2 separate regions of the Homo sapiens genome follow, and region 2 is linked to region 1. Evidence: fine-mapped expression QTL. Tissue or cell type: pancreas. Region 1 holds a variant in brackets; the other region holds the start of a gene. All regions are shown on one strand. Distances are from middle to middle.

Region 1 (8,423 bases):
ATCAATTTTTGCTAACTTTGTCTTCAGATTAATTTTAAAAGATAGCTTTTGCTTTTTTAATTAATCAAAAGACCTGTGGTATCATCCTTCTTCAAAAAATATGCCAATATGAGTCTTACTTTTCTTTCAAAAAGTTGGTGAATCTTGATCTTTTTTATTGTTTGTGATGAAACAGACATTTCTTTTTAAAATTAAATTCCAACGTCGTGAATGTATAGGTCATTGGTTTCTAGAGAAAGTCTTTAAATTAAGGACAATATTTTAATCTAGAAAAGGATACAAAAAGTTGTTGCATATAGGCCAAAAATGTTTAAGTGTGAAAGAGAAATGTAATTACATTATAAAGTTTTAGAAAATAATTATTTATCCTAACAAAACTCATTCATTTCAAACAATAATCAAACAACATCTAGAATAATTTTGATATCTGCAATTGAATTGCAATGTAAAGAAATTTTCTTCAAAAAGAACTTGAAAATCTGCCTCAGAAGATGGGAAATAAATTATTTGAAAAATAAAATAAAATCCTAAATCACAATGTGATACCAACACAGACTGAGTAAATAATAAAAGGTTGTACCTCATTACCTGTTTGAACAACCAGCCACCCAGTTGCTCTCAAAAATATAGTAGTTGTTAGATATATAGGCAATTTTTGCTAGTAGAACATATTCATTAATTTTTTCCTGTAGCAACCAACATATTTTTAAGGCAAGACATGAAAATCCATTATTTAATTTATCTGTCAATGCCTTGGGTCTGGGCATCTGATCTCCCCACTTGGAATGGTTAATTCACCAAAAATGTCTGAGACAAAAAAGCCAAAATTCTTTAACACTTGCTGAAAGGTTAATGAAGAATGAAGTGATTCATAGTTTTCCCCAAAGTCAAGCATGTAAAAATCAATATTCTACATCTTAAATTTTTTATATACAAATTAAGCCAAATTTGGGCCAATCACCTTTTAGACATAAAAAGAGTTGCTCCTGAACATGCCTCAAATGTCTTCTCTGCGTTTCTGTTGCTGTTGTTGTTGTTTTCCTGAAGTAGGCAACATTTTTTATCAGGAGTATTACAGTTAGATAACTTTATTCACACTGAAGTAGATTCCAGAATAATGAAATCATTGGCAGAAAGAAGCAAACCACAGTGGAAAAAGATGCAGGCATGAAGTAAAAGCATCATGAATTGAATGAAACTAAAGATGGACTAAAGTCATAGAAACTGTTAAAACCAGGAGGACCCTAGAGATGTTCTCACTCAAAGCTCTCATTTTAGGAATCAGAAACTGGGGATCAGAGAAAGTGTGTGGCTTTCTCATGATCAGAAGAACCAGACCTAGATCCGAGGACTTGACACACTTGGTTTTGTACTGTCTATACTCCGTCTTTTGACACTTAATGAAATTAAGCAGGAAAAAGATAAGAAAATTTTTTTTGTAAAGTCACATTCCTCTAGGAATTATTTACTAAAATTCTTCTTCACAACTCCCCCTCAGAAATACTGAAAGCCCTTCTTTTTTTTTCTAAAAAACATATTTGCAATTTAAGAAATCTTCTGAAACCGTCACAGATCTCAATTTGCTCTTCTATTATCATTAGTCTACTAATTTCATTAATATAATTTAACTGATTTTCTTTAAGAGTCTGATGAATTTGCCTCCCTCTTTCCAAGATGTTTAAAGCACTATGTGAATTACTTTATTTGTAAAATGTAGAAGTGAGATGTTACGGGAATTAGTGTAAAATTTTAAAAGTGTGCAATAGGTAAAAAGTTTTCCCTCAAGATGTAAAATCCTACAAGACTAAGACTTCTAAACAAATGCCATCCCCAGTCACATATGGATATTTGGGAAACAGAAATCATCCACAGAACTGTTGATTCCTCTGTGAGCTCGCATTTTTAAAATTTCTATTTGTAGTAGTCAGGATTACCCATTTCATTTACATCAGTTGCTCTAGCTCTCTGTGTTCCAGCCATTTGGGTCACTCTGGTTTCTTTCAGTTCTTTCCATCTTGTTCTCTCCTTACAAGGCAAGCATTTAAATAGCTGAAGTGTATTGTTTCTAGAAAATTTCTGCATTGAAAGCCTTGAAGTCTCTATGGCACATTATGTGGTTCATCAAATAACCTGGAGCTTAAATTAGTATATTATTTTTCCATAATTTACCAAATAGCATCTTTCCATCTACTTAAATTCTGAGCCTATATGTGTGACATAGTAGAATTTTAGGCCTATTTACCTTCCAAAATAGTAACAAGGGTAATTTATGCAACTCTGCTTCAATGTGTTATAAAGTGTAAAAATCAATTGTCTAACCCAGACTGCAAAACCTATGCCACTCAATACACGATACGTTTATAAAACTAAAAGTCAAAAAAAGTATGCATTGTGTGCCAGAGTATAAAAATATATTTTAAAAATCATTTGATAACATGCCCAACATTGCAATGAACAATTTGATCATTTAGAAGTTATATTTGAGAGAATGCCAAAATTCTCAGGTTATCATAATATTCTCTGATGGTCACTAAATAACAATGAAGTGAACAATTCTACCATCTGGACTTTGTTACGTAGCCCGATGCTGCCCATAGAAAAGATTAACCTGGCAGGCACCACAGGGATATGTATTTTTTCAATTCCCTCATTTTATAGGCAAGGCAAATAAAATTCAGAAAGCTAAAATAATTGTAAACTTGGTTACAAAGTGACTTGGCAACAGAGCTGGGAGTAAAACCCAAGTCTCTGAGTTGTTCATTACAAGCAGGCTACTTTCACCTTTGAACTCTGGAAAGCACTTTTTAAAAAATATTTCTCTTTATCACAACTGCACTTGAGGTAACTCAGGTGTTATCGCCCTGATTTACTATGGGAAGATACAAACTCTATTTGATTATTCGACTTGTATGAAGTAACCCAGGGACCTCGAGTGTGTCCATCATATTTATTTCATAAACATTTCAAGGCCAATAAGGACAAATAATATACTTGTTATTTACTATGGACAAAAATAATGGGATATATTTTATACCACTTCATGAGTGGTTTTCCAGCTTGGCTAACCTCCATAATCATTAGAGTCACTTGAAATCTTCTGGCTTTGCCCCAAACCCACTGAAGCAGAATCTCCAGGGAAAGTGCCTGGGAATTTGTATTTTTAAGTGGCTCCCCCAGGTGACTTTGGTAATTAGCCAAGTTTAGGAAACCTTGACAATATCACTGGAAGTAACAGGATGTTGCCTTACGTGTTCAGAATGTTCAGAAGCAAAATGTACCTATTGTAAAATTGACCCAATCCAGTTTCTCTCTTTTACAAATGGGGAAAGATAGATGTCTTTGTCACAAGTGGGTAGACAAACTGCCAAATACCACCTATATTTTTGGGTCAGAGACAGATTGGAACTCCACCAAGAGAAACTGGGCATTCATACTCGGTCTATTTCCATGGCAGGGACAAAACAATTCTAATCTTACTGATCATTTCATTAAAGAATAAAGCAATCTCAGGGCATTAACTGCTGACAGTAATGCAGACCATGGATTTCACGGATTAACCAAACCACAAACAATCTAGAACATGCCCACAGAACAATTCTTTGTTTGTGTAGTACAGGAGGCAAAAAAGCAATCAGTATGACTTGAACTGCTGGGTTTAATTACTCAATATAACACTTGCCATTTAAAAATCCGTATGCCCATCAGCATGGCAACAGTCTCTCATAAAGATTCCGGTATCATATGGCACAATTTGTACGGTAATCCCACATTTCCCAAGCACTTTCACATATATTAGTGCACCTTATCCTTACAATAGCCCTGTGAGGTAGATAGTAATTATTGACAAACTGAAAGGTTTGTTATAATTAAAAGTTTATTACTGGCAGAATGCAAATATCCTGAAATGTATCTGATATACTCTTGGTTTCATGCAAAATAAGATATGTATCACCCCTTAGAGTTTGTTAAAACAATTTTAAACCCTAAAATATTCATTAAGTTTTTTTAATGGAAAATGATTCATGCAATGCTAGTTTAAATGCTGAATTTGAGGTTAAAAAAGAAAATGTATCAAGTAGTCAGCCTTTACTACTTTGAATATCAAGCATACAGATCCTGATTTATTTCATCAAAATGGTTTCCTAGCTATACCAAAGGCTAGATCCTTTTCCCTATACAATGGCTCAGGTGAAAAATAGTTACTATAGTGACATACCACAGTGAAGAGTTGAAAATTTGAAGTTTTCAAAAATTAATATTATGTTTGTTCACATGCTAATTAAAATGAATCCACAGTTGTTATTCCTCATTGTTATTGTTTATTGACACTTTTACCCTTTCTCTTTCCTAAAGCCTCAAACTCTCTAAATTTTGGCAAAACTTCTGTGTTATTCTTTCTGTGAGAAAAACTTCAAATAAACTTCCAAAATTTTTTTTCTGGGTACAGTGAACATAGCTAGAACAGTTACTATGTGAA[G/A]AGAATGCTATTAAAGTCAATTATTACAAAGAAGCACTTAGACACACAATAATTTATCAAAGTTTTTATTCAACGTAATATTATCAACAGGTTCAGATAAGAATATAAGTTTTTCTCATGGGAGAAACTCCATCTGAGTCTCTAATTAAATAACTTTTGTATAGTTCCTTTTCTTCTCTGCACAAAAGATCTTTTTTCTGTCCATTCTTGCCCTCCTTCTTTCTTTGTTGATACTATTTACTCCCAAGCCTGCCTCTGAACTCTGTCTAATTAGCTCTTGATAGATCTGCTGCCCTGTTTCCACAAACATTTAATTCTGCCGTCAGTCCCATTTACATTACAGCATGTTGCATTGTCTTTTACCAGCCTAATTTTGTTTGAGTGAATGTAAATCCCATTAAGCAGTCACCTATTAGACTATGGCATATAAACTCCAAAAGCCTCTTTATTACAAGAGTGAACATAAGGCCCAATTGATAAAAGATTTCTGGGGCATTTCCATTTGTGGTGTACTTCAAATATTCTGTCTGCTTTAAACTTAGCTCATGTTTTTGAAGTATTTGACAGACTATTTGAGTATCTTTTTGCCTGTGTATTCCATAGCATGAAATACATAACCATCATTTGCTTGTTGTCTTTAGAAGTTTACTTATACCTAAACATAAGTTAAATATGTATTTCTTCCTCTTTAGTTATTTTATTTTTCCTTTGTAACCTGACCACATTATTTTTGAGCACTGCATAAAGGTGTTTACAAATAACAGGATGGCTGGCAGAATCTTCTCGGAAAAGCTCTTTATGAATACTAAATAATTGTCCAGAAGTTCAGTAAGCCTCAGTGTTTTAAGCTGAACTTTCTGGAGAGAGGTAAGACATAGCATCTTGACAGGCAGCCCTTCAAATGGCAAGTAGCTATGGGCATCAGAGACAGACAGGTTTCTCTTATAACCTTAATGTAATTTGATAGCTCAAAACGAATAAAAACAAGATGTAAGATATCATTAGAAGCCTTGGAAAGACCAGGTGGTCTGATATTTACATCAATATGATCAATATACTCAATCAGATTAGTGCCAGGTACCAGTTTTAAATGAAGGCTCAGTTATAGACTTTCGCCAAAACAGAGATAATCATTCAGCACTATGGTCACATAATCACGTGGTTGAAGGTAAGGGTGAGAATGGCTCTCTTTCCATTTCCTCCTGGTAATTAACTCAGAAAGACATCCATGAAGTGCAAACCCTCACACACAAAATTATTTCTCACCCCTGCAGGCTTGTCAAAGCCAATATTTCAGAAAAGCACAGGTTGCTGAAGGGGACTGTGATTTTTTTTTTTTTTGCCTGCTGTGAGTCCCTAAGGACAACAAACATTCTAAGAGAGACTGTAGCCAAAATTGCTAATAACTTCACACAGTTCTTTTGCCATAATGACAAAATTCAAGGGAAGACTGAATAGAGTAGTGGGTTAGGTGGTAAGCCAGTTATTTGAGCAGGAATGAAAATATATATGGTCCCAAATGCTAGTTACGAAGTCAACCTGGATTAAAAATCTAAAAAATGATTATGACAAATATATGGAATGCAAAGTCAATAACAGATATTCAGTTTGTTAAAAATGAGGACTTACAATATTTTAAGAGGAGGAAAAATTATAAAAAAATTGAGCATCAAAAATTGATTTATAAAGTAAGAATTTGCATCAATACCTAGCCATACCTACAATATACAGCTTGGTATTCGAGTAGAATAGATTTTATATAACTCTAGACTCTCTAATATTCAGGCTCAAAAATACCCAGTAATAGATATCAAAACAAATTTCTTGGATGATAGGCCCCTTATTTCTTTCTACATATGTTTTGATTTGGGTCAATGGCTTGGCTAGATATTATATGTATGATTTGACATGATTGTTTATCTTTCTGTCCTTTACATAGCATTAAGGACATTTATTCGACACAGATATAGTCAAATGTCATAATGGGCAACATGAGTTACACGTTGGCTCCCTTGAGTGTCTCCTCATAATCACTTCAAATCTTACTGAGACCGAGATTTCAAAGCAAGAGGTACATATTAATTCAGGGTTACTTGTTAACAAAACAGGCAGCTAACTACTATTACATTGGTTCTTACGGTTTACTGAAGCATTAAACATTAACATTATTATTATGAAATACAACCAATATCAGAAGGAAATTATTTTTTAAAACAGTACAAATATTTTAAGTGGGCCTACAAGAAACCTTAGTGATTCATAATAAGTATATTGAACGAATTTGAAATTCAGTGAACACATCAAAGTTTCTAGACCCACATAAGTTTCTGTACTACCCATAACATTTATAAAAGCAACTTCAGTAACTTTTTCAAAAAGGTATCTCTGTGTTATATCTGGACACAATACATATAAAATATAAATATAGATGGGTTGCATAACCTCTCTGAGCCTCAGTTTTCTCTTTTACAATGGAGAAAATGCATATTAAAGTTGTTCAGATTAAATGAGATGATTACATAAGTGCTGACTTTTTTTTTTTTTTTTTTTTTTTTTTGACACAGAGTCTCGCTTTGTTACCTAGCTGGAGTGCAATGGGGCAATCTCGACTCACTGCAGCCTTGACCTCCTGAGTTCACACAATCCTCCTGCCTCAGCTCCCCAAGTAGCTGGGACTATAGGCGGGTGGCACCATGAGGGTTAATTTTTTTTTTTTTTTTTTTTTTTGTAGAGACGGGATTTCCGCCATGTTGCCCACGCTGTTCCCCAACTTCTGAACTCAAGCGATCCGCCAGCCTCTGCCTCCCAAAGTACTGGGATTACGGGCGTGAGCCACCGTGCACAGCCAGTGACTTCTTAATATATATCCTAAAGCGCAAGAGGCACTGGATATTTGTGGAGTCTTGATAACCACCAGGGAGGGGCCCAAGGTAGGAGAGAACAATTGTTCTGAGAGACAAGTAACCATAAACAACGCGCTGACACAACGACCTTGCTCCACAGGTAGCCCAAATGGCACAACCTCGATCAGCATGTAGCCCCCTCCAGAAGACCTTATAAAACTTCCCTCCAGCCCCTGCCTCTTTGCAGACAGCCCCTTCTCTGTAGTGCTACATATTGCACCCTTGCAATGAATTTTCATACTTTCTCTAATAAATGTGCCTTTATTTTTCTCCCCCTACAACTGTCTTGGTAAATTCCTTTACCACCGGCAACACCAGCCCCAGCCAGTCACACTTGTAAGAGTACTCAGCAGTGAGCAACACTTATTTTTCACAGAGCTATAGGTGAGAAGACAGACAGAAACCCATATGTAAGTATAACTTTTGATAATTTTTGTCACAAACAGTAGTAGCCATAGTTTTGCCTCTCAAATATGCTTTTTGTTCACCTTTCTATTAACATAATTTTTTATGTTTTAAAATGAATCTGCTCCAAAAGATTCTTGTGAACTGATCCCTCTGCCTACTCCAAACAGGGGGTAACCTAACAGGCTTCATCGCTAGTCAATGAGATGACCTTATTTCCCTATCAATAGTGATAGGAGGTATCCAGTAAGAGGCGTGCTCTTTGCAATAAAAACACAACTATGGATATAATATGAAAAAAAATAACTGCTTTGAACCTTTTCTGTCACAATTCCAGAAAAGACTGCCTAAGAATTAGGCCAATAAAAAAGAACGACATTATGTCCTTTGCAGGGACATGGATGGAGTTGGAAGCCATTATCCTGAGCAAACTAACATGAAATACTTAACATGTTTTCACTTATAAGTGGGAGTTAAATGATGAAAACACACGGACACATAGAGGGCAACAACACGCACTGGGGCCTTTTGGAGGGTGGAGCATGGAAGGAGGGAGAGGATCAGTAAAAACACCTAATGGGCACGAGGCTTAATACCTGGGCTATGAAATAATCTGTACAACAGACCTCCGTTACAAA
Region 2 (5,568 bases), 260 kb after region 1:
AAAAGCAATTCACTCAACATCTTGTCGCCCTCTGGCAGCTTAGTTTACTTATCCGCACTTAATTTCTCATTTGGACCAAAACAAACTCCTCCAAACTGCTACTGACTGCTAACCGCGAGAGGGGAGACGCGCAATATGTATTTAGTTGGGAACACACAGCCACACACATACATAGGCACAAACACACACAGCCTCACTCATACCCCAGACAGTAACTTGTTTTTATAATAGCACTGCATTAAAACCAGCTGAACTTTCCCTGCCAGGTGCGGCAGGGTGGGGGTGGGGGAGGATGAAAAACGAAGTCCCCCGGGGCATTTACAGTTTCCAATGGATCACCTTAGTATGCGTGTTGCAATTATACCAGGGATGCACCCGAGAGCTTTTCTTTGTGCGGCCCTTTCATCTGGATCACTTTGTGTTTTGAACAAGTGAGGCTCGCCTTTGTGCCCCCAGAATTTCAAGTACAGAGTCACACACGGAACAACAATGGCACGCTAATCCTCGCGCTCTAAATGGGCTCACTTGTGGGTCTGACAATTCGCCCAGGGAAACGAGAAGAGACGAAGCGAGGGCGCGAGCTAGTGTCGCCTGAGACGAGGAAGAGGACAGCTGCAGAACTAATTTGGATTACATTCCTTGCAGAAATTCTGAAAAGGGCTTTTCGGCATAGCTCAACTCGGAGCCGCACAGTTAATACCAAATTGCTGCGGACTCGGAGCGGGGTCCCCCAGTGGCAGAGGCTGAACCAGACAGCCCCCAGTAGGTCGCCTCGTAGAAATTCCTCTCGGCTAAGCCTGCATGTCGGTCGCCAATGCCTTTGAATGGGTCAATGTGCATAATCAACCCATTGAGGGAAAATATGAAGGGACTCGAAGTGGGGAGGGAGATAAAAAGAGATGTATCTAAGAGGCCGCTTGGAATGTCAAGTCCGTGTTGGTGTGATTCCGGAGGTGGCTGGAGCGCGGGACCTGGTATGCGTGAAGAATTTCGGAGTAATTGGGAGGGTGCAAACGGCCAGCACAAACGCCTCACATGTGCCATTCGAAGGTCATTTTGAAAGACTCGATAATTGTAACTTGTTATTTACTAGGCAAAGGAGGCGGCGGCGGCGGCGGCGGCGGAGCGGGAAAACTACAGCTAGCCGTTTTCTTGGTGAGGTCAGAAGGACACCCTCCGGGGGCCTAAAGCGCTCCCTATCGCCACTCCCGGGGGCTTTATCACCTCAAGCTACTTCCCACGCTCCAGTCACCATCCCTGGATGGTTTCGGAAATCTCTCTGGCTCTCCAAAAGGCACCCCTTGGCCACGTCAAGACACCGGTCCTCCTCAGACCTCTCCCGTCCCACTTTCATCCCCAGGAAACTCTAGTGTCAGAAACTTTGAGCTCCATTGCACTGCAGGTGCTGTCATTAGTCCTGCAAGCCGTGGCGGGCCAGCCCCGCCGCGCTGCCTCTCGGGGTCAATTAGCCCTTTGCCTGCCCAGGTACCTGGGGCTCGAGCTCTCCAGCAAGCAGTGGCCGCGCACCCATCGCCGCTGCCGCTTTCGCCTCGGGTGGATCCAGTGACCCGCAGGCTCGGCAGCCTGGCCGGGCAGTAAACAGACAAGTTTGAAGGACTCCGGCCAATAGCAAGTTGAACTACAGGAAGAACTCTTCCCGGAGCCAAACACGGCAACCGACGGGAAGGCCGGGCTTCTGGCTCAAGTGTGCCAAGCCTTTTTTTTTTTTTTTAAGAGGTCAGGCAGGCGAGTAAGCGCCCCTCAAGTCAATGGGGAGAGGGCTCCGGGAAGCCGGCGGAAGAGGCCCAGAACTCCGGGCCCCGGACCGAGGCGCGCCCGCCTGCTGCACTCCGGCTGCCCGGGCTGGGCGCGAGTTGCGTCTGACGCCACAAGGCTCGGGCGACTGGGGGCGCAGCGGTCGCCAGCAGCACACACAGGTGCAAAGCCCGATTTTCTGAGCGCCGCTCTCCACCGCCCTTCGGGCTCGGCTCGGGAGAGGCCCAGCCAGCACCGCCCCAGGACCGCGGCCCCGGCGGTGCGGGTTCTGCCCTCGGGGACCCGACAGGGACAGAAGAGTCTCCTCTGACTGGGGATTTGGGTCTCCCATGTCCCGAACAACAGGCGCCACCAGAAGGGATCCCGCTTAGGCTCCCAAACAAAACGCTCGGGAAAGAAAAGCAGGGGGTTAAGGAGAGAAAAGAGGGACTCAGAGTGATTTTTCACGATAAATAAAGCAAACGCACACATACAGGGTAAGTTTCAAATGGAAAGAGGGGTGACCGAAAGCCCAGGGAAGAGGCCCCGGTCAAGCGGTCCCTCCACGCCTCCCGGGATGGGTGAAGAGGGCAGGGGAGCCACTCGAGGCAGCCCCGCCGGCGGCTGCAGGTTCGGCGACCGGAGTGCCAGAAGGAACCCACCTGACTGAGAATCGCTGGGCTGGACGGTCCCCGCCGCCACGAGAAGGCTCACCCAGACCCAAAGTCCTGTCGCCGGCTTCATTTTTTGGAAGTCTCAGATCCCGTGCTGACAATTACATGTCCAAATGGCATATCCCCCTTTCGGGCACGCGGAGGAGATCCCCCAGCCGGGCGCGCGTGGGGGTGCGAGGGGGGCGGGCGCGGCGCGCGCGGTGTGGCGACTCCCAGGGCGGGCGACCGAGTCCGCGCCCGCGGGTCCAGGGCCGGGGCCCGAGGAGGGGGCGAGTGTGAGCGCGTGTGTGCGCGTGTGGGAGTGTGCTCGGTGTGTGCGCTTGGCGCTCTGGGCCGGACTGTGCAGCTATTTCCCCGCGTGAGCCTTCGCTTGCTCGCTCCCTCCTCACTTTCTCTCTCTCTCACTGGTTGGTCAACAATAAAAAAGGAAGGGGGGCGAAAGGTTTCCAAAAAAAGTTGATTGCAAAGAGGCGGTAGGTTTCCGGCCTCTCCCCGCAGCCGGGCTATGTTCTGCTCCTTCTTCAGTTTCCTTGCACCTCCAGTCCAAATCGGGAGGGGAGCGGGGCGGGGGGAGCTTCTCGCTTCTCCCCGGATCCCGTCCTTCTTTTTCCTCTCAGCTTTCCTCACACTTGTCCGGCGGCTGCGGTAATTAAAGCTCCGAGCGTCATTTCCAGCGCTCCGCGGTCTCCAGCTGCAGCCCACAGAGAAATTAATAAGACTCCAGAAAAAAAAAAAAAAAAGGTGCGGGGGGCGGTGGGAATAAAACAACCCTCCACGCAACCAGGCCGGCTCTGCTCAGCCGCGCAAACCCCGCCCATGCTCTGACCCAACTAGCCACGCCCTTCCCCCCCCCTTCCAAAGGGAAATCTTATTGGCTCAGCCACTCCCCAAAATCCTGGGCCTCCGGAGTTGGGAAAACACCTGTCAGGGAAAGGGAGCCTCTTGGTGGGGGCAGGGGAAGCTGGATTTAAAGGGCTCACCGAAGCCATGCACTGAAGCACTCGTCTTCCCTCCCTGGCAGAGGCCTGGGACAGCTGGCCTGCTGAGTGGACGGACCATTGGAGGGCCGCTTACGGAAATTTTTTTTTTTTTTAAACAAGAAAGTCAGCATTTTCTCCGTTGCCCCACGGTGCTCATCTACAGACAAGACTTTCCCTAGAAATAAAAGTCAATGTTGCTTTCAGCAAAAAGCCTCCGCCCGCAGTACTCTGCCACTCATGGTCCACAATTAGAAAGTACTTTAAAAGTGTGTACAGCAAGTAACTGGTAGCCCCTGAGGATTAGGTAGTGGTAGGGGTATAATCACCGCCCCGCCTCCCGCCCCCAGTTATGCCATCTCTCCGATTACTCCCACATTTCTAAACTGACCAACATTGAGCCAAACTAAACTTTCACATTTATAAAGGCATATCCTTTGATTTTTAGATTTTATGTTTTTTTTTCACCTTTGGAGTTCATTCTTATTAAGCAGATTCTAGTCCAAAGCCACTGATTTGATCTTAAAGGGCTAGAAATTGTCCCCAGCCTGAAAGAATTTAAGGAGGCCACATCAGAACATAATTAACCTTAAATGATTCTGTTTATTCTACAGTAGACCCAGCTTTAGGCCCCTTCCTTGTCCTCACTCTGCACATTCATGGTCCCTAATCTGGAGGTCATTGCTAGTTACGAAAGTCTCTGACCTTTTCTGAATCTAAAATATTCTGGGACTGGGTCATTTCAATGTACATATCCCTTGCCTTTTACAGCTCTGAAACCGCACCCTGGCAAGGGCCAGAATCTGCTGGGGGTAGTTATTGGTTTGCTATTTGTACAGGCATTCTATGTATGAATCACTTTCCTTTTTTGGTTTTTCTAGAAGCAGCAAATATATAAATAAAAAGTATCAGGGGAGCTTAAAAATCAAACCACCCTGCCTTTCATTTGAGACCTTGATCTCCATTTCCCACTCTCTTATCTATAGCCCCATCCCTTAAGAATTTCCATGGAGCTGAGAACAGATAGGAGGTACAGATGCCTGAAGCCTGAAGCTTTCCCTTTCTTAGACCCACAGCAAATAACAGGCTCCATGAAGACGCCCAACAAGCTGAGCGTGCGGTTTTACCAGAAGCAGCCTAGGGCAGAGAGGAACTAAGCCTAGAGCAGATGACGGAGACTTGACCAGAATGGTACTGATTGCAGCAAAACTGTGCACACTGCTCTTTGGGATTATCTTTGTTTTCTTTTCTTTTCTTTTTTTTAATTACTCTTTCTCTCTGTTTTCTCTTCTTTCATTCAATCTCTTCTCATTCCCCTTGTCTTAAATCCTTTTGAAATTCTCAGGCACCTCTCTTCCATAAAAGCTACTTCTTTTCAAAACTTACTTTCTGTCCCTAGAATGACAATTTAAATGAGAAAAACATCTTCCTTTTGTAAAAGTTTAAGTCTCTGTAGTAAAAAAAAAAAAAAAGTCTGGTTTCTGATGGCAATTATGTTGCACGAAGTGAAGGAATGGGCCAGGTGTGGTGGCTCATGCTTGTAATTCTAGCATTTTGGGAGGCTGAAGTGGGAGGATCCCTTGAGGCCAGAAGTTCCAGACCAACCTGGGCAACATAGTGAGACCTCAACTCTACCTTTTTTTTTTTTTTTTTTTAATGAGCTGGGTATGGTGGTGCACACCTGTAGTCTTAGCTATTGGGAGGCTGAGATGGGATAGAATTGCTTGAGCCCAGGAGTTAATAGTTACAGTGAGCTATGATCATGCCACTGCACTCCAACCTGGGAGATAGAGCAAGACCCTATCTCTGAAAAAAAAAAAGAGAGAAAAAGAAAAAGAAAAAAAAGACAAAGTGAATAAATGAGTTGCATATTTTCGCTTAAATTGTAGGGCAAAAACTTCATGGCCTGAATATTTTGGATTTTTTTATAGTTGTGCCAATTATGTTAGTTTTTGTTCCCCTGTCAATTTTATAGCTTTTCTATAACAGAATATCTTCTATATGCCCTGCTCTCACCCATATCTTCTAGAATAATTCTTGACAAAGGAGGATTTTCCATTAATATTCATTGGTTTAAAAAAACACTTAGTATATATTTTTGTGGATATTAAACAGCCCATACAAGGATTCACCTATTACATTACCCAACATACCCACAGTTT

Which allele goes with the higher level. Positions count from the first base shown, and alleles are read on the strand shown. Sizes are in standard deviations (SD) of each study's normalised expression.
For the expression in pancreas of the gene that starts at base 2,771 in region 2, G is the low allele of the variant in region 1 and A is the other (large effect, 1.1 SD a copy in GTEx).

What was found. PIP is the estimated chance that this variant, and not a neighbour inherited with it, causes the effect.
Region 2: ERBB4 starts here. The variant in region 1 is fine-mapped to the expression of ERBB4 in pancreas (GTEx, PIP above 0.99).

Annotation. Positions count from the first base shown.
Region 1 is chr2:212,279,587-212,288,009 of GRCh38, forward strand. All of the region lies in intron 1 of ERBB4 (erb-b2 receptor tyrosine kinase 4), which reads right to left. Among named protein-coding and RNA genes, the nearest start is that of MIR548F2, 140 kb to the right of the region's middle. The variant G/A (reference allele first, on the strand shown) is at 4,478.
Region 2 is chr2:212,536,032-212,541,599 of GRCh38, forward strand. It overlaps ERBB4 (erb-b2 receptor tyrosine kinase 4), which reads right to left and starts at 2,771. Exons shown (of 28, transcript NM_005235.3): 1 at 2,418-2,771. The coding sequence starts at 2,499. RefSeq lists an enhancer at 1,302-1,802.